Homo sapiens: one gene and its partner. The protein of the gene in region 1 interacts with the protein of each later gene in a pairwise test. Each region holds a gene or a part of one and is shown on either strand. Other genes may lie near its edges. The genes, in order: KHK and GLP1R.

What was found.
Region 2: the proteins of KHK (region 1) and GLP1R interact in a protein complementation assay, tested with the Homo sapiens proteins (one large-scale study listed by BioGRID).

What each region holds. Positions count from the first base shown.
Region 1 is NC_000002.12:27,089,487-27,093,299, reverse strand, and holds part of KHK (ketohexokinase), read right to left. Parts: intron 969-3,813; coding exon 852-968; intron 1-851. UniProt on the Homo sapiens protein: Catalyzes the phosphorylation of the ketose sugar fructose to fructose-1-phosphate.
Region 2 is NC_000006.12:39,079,612-39,083,424, reverse strand, and holds part of GLP1R (glucagon-like peptide 1 receptor precursor), read right to left. Parts: coding exon 3,723-3,813; intron 2,728-3,722; coding exon 2,686-2,727; intron 1-2,685.

The DNA of each region.
Region 1 (3,813 bases):
TCCCATCTCACAGGGCAGATTCTCTCCCTCTATTCTCTTCCTGCCAGTTCATCAAGGCAGGGAGTTTGGCTGTAGCTCAGGTGGTTGGACTCTGCCAGCAGCCCCCTTCAAACCAGGGTTCAAAGGGCTGCCCTTCACAGGCCAGCAACCTGGCAGCCTGCCCCCGTGCCCACAGTGTGCAAAGTGTGGGCCTCACCTCCCGATAAGTGCTTGCTGAGTCGGCAGCGCCAGGGGTCAAAGGGCTCTGAGGTCCCTGCAGCAGCCAACATGGAGGGCGTGCATGAGCCATTTAGGGCTATAGCCCTGACAGCCGGGGAACTGGGAGGTGTGGGTTCTGAGCCCAGCTTTAGCATGTGGCTTCAGGGTGTCCTTGAACAGGGTACTCTCACTGCTTCAGTGAACAACAGGGACATGAGCACCAGCCCTGCCTCTCAACTGGGACAGAAACTGTGGGCCTGGACCTGGGGGAGGATGGGTACCACGTGTCCCTAACTGCCTTCTGCCTCAAGCATGGCCAGGATAAGGGACTTAAGATAAGGCAAAGGCACATCCACCGCAGAGTCTGCAGGAAGCAAGGAAGGAGAAAGGAAGAGGCTGAAGCAGGCTCCAGAAGTGTCCAGGAAACAAGCTGTGGCAAGGAAAGCTTCACAGGGGCAGCATCAGCCCCCGAACCGCAGAGAGGCCACGCCAAGGCAGGGCTGGGCGTCTGGTGCTCCGCCATGCCCCCTCCCCGCGTTTCTGCTGGACACAACCCATTTCTAATCCCCCATCCACCCAGGGTGGATACATCCTTCTTCTCCCACAATGATGCAGGCAGGCCTTCCCCAGTGGGCTCTCCCTCCTGGACTTACTCAGCAACATGGCCAGGAGCCATTGAGCCCATGAAGGCACAGGGGGCTCCGAGCAGGGAGAGAACGGTGCAGGAGTTGGACGCGTTGCCTCCGCGCTGCCATCTCTGGGACAAACACCTGCAAAGCACAGGGAGGGTCCCTGCAGCCCCAGCAGGCTGATCCCAAGCACAGTCTCCTGTATAGGGGCCTACAGAATGTAACAGCTGGGGACTCCTCTCAGAAAGCATCTAGGCCGACGTCTCACTTTGTACCCGGGGCAGCCGAGGCCGGCCAAGGGAAGGAGCTTGGCTGAGAGCGGTGTCTACCTCCCCAGCCCAGGCTAAATTCAAGCTGACAGCAGTTCCTTTCAATATTTCCATCTGTTCCTAGGGCAACAGGAAACCACTCACTTGGGTCCATCACTATTCGAGAGACCCACTAACTCCAGGTCATCTCCTCCTCACCTTTCACCCCAGTCAGAGCTGCTCCAGACGCTGCACCTTTGGCCTCCTCCTTGAGAGCTGGAGCAACTCCAAGGACCTCGGGGACTAAGTGCCTCTTCCCAAAGGTATCACATTTACACCTACCCCTGTGTTAGGAGTGTCTACTTCAATAGAAACTGCAGAGCTATAAAATCAAACGAGTAAGACAGGACAGCAAACCTGGACGTTGGTCGTTTAAGAAGTGGCAGCAGGGAGCACTTCTCCATCTTTACTAAAAACCAACCAAAAGGAAACTAACAAGACACACGTGAAGGGCTTCATTGTCATCAGCAGCAAAAATGATAACTTCCACATAGAGGGTCAACGCACTGATCCCCTCACAGTGTTACTGGAGCCCAAATGAGAAATCATTAATGAATGTTATTACCTTTGAGGTAAGAATGGTGGTGTTATTTCTATTGTGCCAGTTCCAATAATAATAATAATTGTGGCAGTTTACAATAAAAGGAACAGTACCAAAGAACCACGAATTAAGAGAAAAAACCGAACCAGAATTTTTAGGCCAAAGCATATTTGTACGCGAAACTTCAGTTTTGGGAAAAGGGGAGCACGATGTCATTAGAAAAAAAATGATAGTAGGACAGGCACAGTGGCTTATGCCTATAATCCCAGCACTTTGGGAGGCCAAAGCAGGAGGATCACTTGAGCCCAGAAGTTCGAGACCAGCCTGGGCAACCAAAGGGAGCTCTTGTCTCTAAAAAAAAAAAAAAAATTAAAAATTAGCTGGGTATGGTGGTGCATACCCGTGGTCCCAGCTACTCAGGAGGCTGAAGTTGGGGGAGCGTATGAGCCCGGGAGGTTTAGGCTGGGGTGAGCCATGATACTGCACTCCAGCCTGGGTGGCAGAGTGAGATCCTGTCTCAAAAACAACAATAACAACAATGACAAAGGATAGTAATTTTTTTGTTTTTTTGAGACAGAGTCACTCTGTCACCCAGGCTGGAGTGCAATGGCATGATCATGGTTCACTGCAGCCTCAACTTCCCCAGCTCAACTGATCCTCCCACCTTAGTCTCCCAAGTAGCTGGGATTATAGGTGTGCATCACCATGCCCCGCTAATTTAAAAAATTTTTTCGTAGAGATGGCATCTTCTTATGTTGCCCAGGCTGGTCCCGAACTCCTCGGCTCAAGCGATCCTCCTGCCTTGGCCTCCCAAAGTGCTGGGATTATAGGTATGAGCCACTGCACCCAGCTGGTCAAAGATTTTCAAGCTGGCCGGGCGCAGTGGCTCACGCCCATAATCTCAGCACTTTGGGAGGCTGAGGCGGGTGGATCACGAGGTCAGGAGTTCAAGACCAGCCTGGCCAAGATGTTGAAACCCTGTCTCTACTAAAAATACAAAAATGAGCCGGGTGTGGTGGCAGGTGCCTGTAATCCCTGCTACTCGGGAGGCTGAGGCAGGAGAATCTTTTGAACCCGGGAGGCAGAGGTTGCAGTGAGCCAAGATCATGCCACTGCACTCCAGCCTGGGTGACAGAGTAAGACTTTGTCTCCAAAAAAAAAAAAAAAAAAAGAAAGAAAAAAGAAAAAAAAGATTTTCAAGCTGAGCTTTACAGCTTTACAGAAATTTTTACGAAAAGATATGAAAAAAAAGGAGGAATCTCGAGGGATCTGACTTGATCAATAGTTAAGGACAAAGCTGATGTGGGAACCCAATTTCCTGACCCCAAAGCCATTGCTAATTACTCCGTATTTTAAAACTAAAAGTTGTTAGGCCCAAGCATTGAGGTTTCTAAGAAAGGATATAGAATTTTACTCTGGGGAAACCCTTCAAAGTCACACTGATATTTCCTGTGCAGAAATGCTCAGCTAAAGGCTGGGCGCGGTGGCTCACGCCTGTAATCCCAGCACTTTGGGAGGCTGAGGCAGGCGGATCGCCTGACGTCGGGAGTTCGAGACCATCCTGACCAACATGGAGAAACCCCATCTCTACTGAAAGTACAAAATTAGTTGGGTGTGGTGGCACATGCCTGTAATCCCAGCTACTCGGGATGCTGAGGCAGGAGAATTGCTTGAACTCTGGAGGCGGAGGTTGCAGTGAGCCAAGATCGCACCATTGCACTCCAGCCTGGGCAACAAGAGCAAAACTCCAACTCAAAAAATAAAAAAAAGGACACGTCCCAGGGGTCTGGCTGAGCTCCAGGTGGCGGCTCCCAAGAGTCCCCAACTGCCTGTCAAGCACAGAGACCCTAGGACAGGTGGGGCTGAGACACCCAGGAAGGACTGGGTCCCCACTCGGATGTGCTCCTCTGGGAGGCACAACAGTTCAGGAGCCAGGCTGCAGGGAACCAGGGCCATGGGGCTGCGGGGAAGGCATGGCCTGGAGTGCAGGAAGCATGATGGACATGGGAAGGGGCCCTTTAGAGAAGTGCCTCGCTCAGTGCCCACCTTCAGAACCTGCCCCATCAGTGTGGGTGCTAGCAGGACCTCCTTCTCCTACCTTCCCGACAGAATTAAGCTGAGAGGAAATGGGACTTCA
Region 2 (3,813 bases), on another chromosome or scaffold:
GGTCACAAGTACCTGGCATTGCCATGGCAACCCTGGGTCTGCAGAACAGCTCTTGTGGACAGAGGCCTTAGCCCCAGAGCCACATGTGTCTTTTGTGGCCCAGTGACAATGATGTATCTGTCCTTGTGCCTGGAGCAGCCAGGGCATGAGGAGTCTCAGGGTGGGTTTAAAGGAACTGGCTGGTGCTCTGAAGGGAGACAGGTTCTCCCGTTCTCTGAGCAGGGTCTCCTGGACCCCGTGGCACTAGCCTGGAAGATCCACGGGGAGATGCTAGCTGGGGTCTGTAGCCAGGCCTGGTCAGAGAGGTGCAACCCTGGTGATTCAGGATCAAGTTTTTTTCCAAGGGCAAAGAAGTACTATCCCCTTACAAAGGTGGGCCAGCCATAGGTGGTGCATGAGGAGGGAGGTGATGAGATGACTAGGCTTGGAAGGATGGAATCTGGAGAGGCAGCTGAGCCAGGGGTCAGGGGAGACTGTTCACAATGGCGGGGGGGAAGCCAAGCACACGTGTCTGCTAGTAGGGCTGCAGTGACAGTGTCAGAGGATAGAGAAGTGAGAAACGGGGACGTGGGGGGGTCAAGATGACAAGGTGGCAGCAGGGAGCCTCAGTCTCTCCCTACAGGCCTCTGCTCCTCATCCCCACACAGGATACATGCCACCCTGTCTTGCCCCCATCACCACTGGGCTGGAATGGAAAGCAGCAGAGCTCAGGGCTGGGTAGCGCATCACCCAGCTGGCTGAGAGCATTCCTGGAGGGGAGGCCACCCACAGAGCTTAGGTTTTTGCACTTCCTCGTTTGCATCAGTTTTAAAGAAACTCATTTTGAGGATATGGCAGTGGAGGAGGACCAGGACTGCCTCCTGTGGGTCACGAGCCTGTTCCCTGCCCTACCCTCCAAACGGAGCCGCTGGGTCCTCTAAGACCTGTCCCAGGAGCAGCCAGAATCCCATTTATGGGCCACTCTTTGCCTGGCGCTGCCTTCACCTCCCCAGCACCTGCTTCCCTGAGGCATTAAGTGGGATCTTGCCCCCGCCACAGCCCACTAGCTCTACCATCTTCTGTCTATTGAATTAGGCTACTCATTTCATTTTGCTGAGGCTTAACGTTCTTAGCTGTGAATTGGGGATACCATCTGCTGCACAGCATTGGATGTAATGAGACACTCTGAGCACCTTATATGCAGTAAACCCTTAAGAGACCTTGGTTTCCCTCCCATTTAGAGATCTGAGGGCCACACTTCCCACAGGTAGCCAGTTCAGCAGAAGCAGGGGGAGGCCTCAGGGACAAGGGAACATTCCCCTCCCTTCCCTTTCACCCAGCCTCATTTTCTCTGCACGGCATCCTCTGAAATTCCTTAGGCCCCTGTCTCTGGGAATCACTGAATACTGATCTAATAGTGATTGCTTACTGAGCATCTGGAGATAATGGTGTGTGTTTCTCCATGCCAAGCAGCACCTGTGAGGAGCTAGGATGGGCCTTCAGCATCCCACCTTGAAGGAAGGACTTGTTCTCTGTTCCCCTTTCGCACCTTTTTCAGACTTTCTTAATCCTCACAGGATTATCCCCACTTTGTAAATGAGCAAACTAAGTTTCAGAGTGGGCAGGTAACTTAGGCAAAGTCACACAGCTCATTAAGTGATGGGGCCCAGATCAGACCAAATAAGATGCCAAAGCCTGCATCCTTGCATCTTTTCTGCTACATCACATTGCTTCTTTGAGCCATCTCATAGCTCCTTGAAACACCCAGGTCCCCACCCACTGTCCTTTCTGCATCCCCCACACCCATAGAAAAAGACAAGCCTATTAATGTGCTGACTCCAACATCCCTGAGCTCTGGGATTCCAAAGCTGAGTACCTTGGTGGAAGGGGCCTTTTCCAGGTGCCCATGAACACAGCCATGCCCTCCTCCCAGGAGCTGACCATCTCAGGGATGGGAGGGAGGCCTGCTGTCCTGCAGACATTTTCAGGAGAGTGTGTGGGGCCAGCGAGAACCCCCTTCTCCCATCCTAGCACCAGAAAGCCACCCCCTTCCCCACAGTGAGCCAGGGCTCTTGCCTGTGTGTATGAAGAATGGGGTACTTTCTGCTTTAATGCAGAATTAATTTGAATCCTGGCTCTGCCATGCCACTATTTCCACACTTCACCTTAGCCAAAAGGCTAAGAAGCGATGTGTGCCACTATTTCCAAACCTAGGGCAGGTTCCTGACTCTTTCTGATCTTCAGTGTTTTCATGTATATATAAAAAATGGGAATATGAAATAAGAATTTTAGCAGGGTTTTTTTTTGAGGGATGTGGGGGTCATAATTAAATGAGATAGTGATTATTAAAGCCCCAAGCATGTGGCTTGGGTATGTGTGTGTTGAATCACTTTGTAAGTGACAGTCACTACCACCAAGCAAAGAGGGTCATTCAGGATCCCCTTAACATGAGTCTGGGTCTTCCTTAGGGTCACATGCCATTAGGGTATACCTGTACATGTACTTGTGTGTGTGTGTTCATGTGTGAGAGAGACCATGCACAGAAAACCAAATCTGTGGACAAGATGGCTTCTCAACCCTAGTGCCTCAGTGAGGTGAGTAGGGGGTTTCAGCTGGCAAGATTGATGGGAGTCCCCATTGTACTACTCCAGACGGGCTGATGGTACCCACCCACCAGGGTCCCCACCGTCCCTCCTCAGAGCTTACCTCATTGTTGACAAAGCAGTATAATATGGCCACCATCAGCCCCTGGAAACAAGAGTCACATCAAGAGGGAGGAAGCAGGAGGGAGGTGCCCTGCAGACTGGCCCTGGTCGGAAGCACTTTGGGACTCCATCCTCAACAACCCCCTCCCCAAATCCAGCGGCCCAGGCAGATCCAGGAATGGGGCAGTGGCTTCCCTCTCATTTCCTTTCTGAAGGAACACCAGGGTTGCACCTCTGCGACTAGGCCTGGCTACAGGCCCCAGCTAGCCTCTCCCCATGGGTCTCCCAGGCATGTGCCATGGGGTCCAGGAGACCCTGCTCAGAAGCTGCCCAGAAGCTGTAGAGATCCTACATCCAACCTCTCCTTGAGGAGGCCTGATCCAGTGAAGTACAATGACTCTGATCATGGAGAATATTCCCCACTCCAGCCCCATCTGTTCATGAAGGAGACCCAGGGCTCCAGAATTGTGTTCTGTATGTCTGCACATGTATGTAAATACACACACATGAGCCCACATGTGTGCAGGCATCTCATGACACTCTTGAGGGGCAGGCAGGGACCAGTTTTTTTGTATTTTTACACCCCCTTAGCATCATCTAATGCTAGTGGAGAGGATCAGTTCTTTTCTTTGAAACTGTGACACCGTAACTCTGGTTTTAACACCTCTGAGTCTCCTCTGTAAAGTGAGGCTAACCCTGCACATCTCCTGGGTTCTGTGAGGAGTAAATGCACAATGCATGTAAAGCACCTGGCAGGGTGCTCGCCACCAAGTAGATGGCAGCTGCAATGCCAGGCTGGTACCCAGAGCTACATCCAGGAAGGCTTCTTGTCCCATGTGCTTACAGAGAAGACTGGCCCAGGTATTGGGACACCTGGGGATACTAGTTCTGGCTCTGCTCCAACTAGGTGACTTTGGGCAGGGATCACCCCTCCAGGTCCCAGTCTTCCCACCTTTTCCATCTGCATGATGCAGGCTGGTGTCTGTCCCACCCCCACTCTAGGACTTTACAAGCAAGTGTCCCCAAGCATGAAGTCACCTGGAAGGAGGTGAAGGAGAGCTCTGTAAACAGCTTGATGAAGCGCAGGGTCCCCCGGGCGTGCTCGTCCATCACAAAGGCAAAGATGACC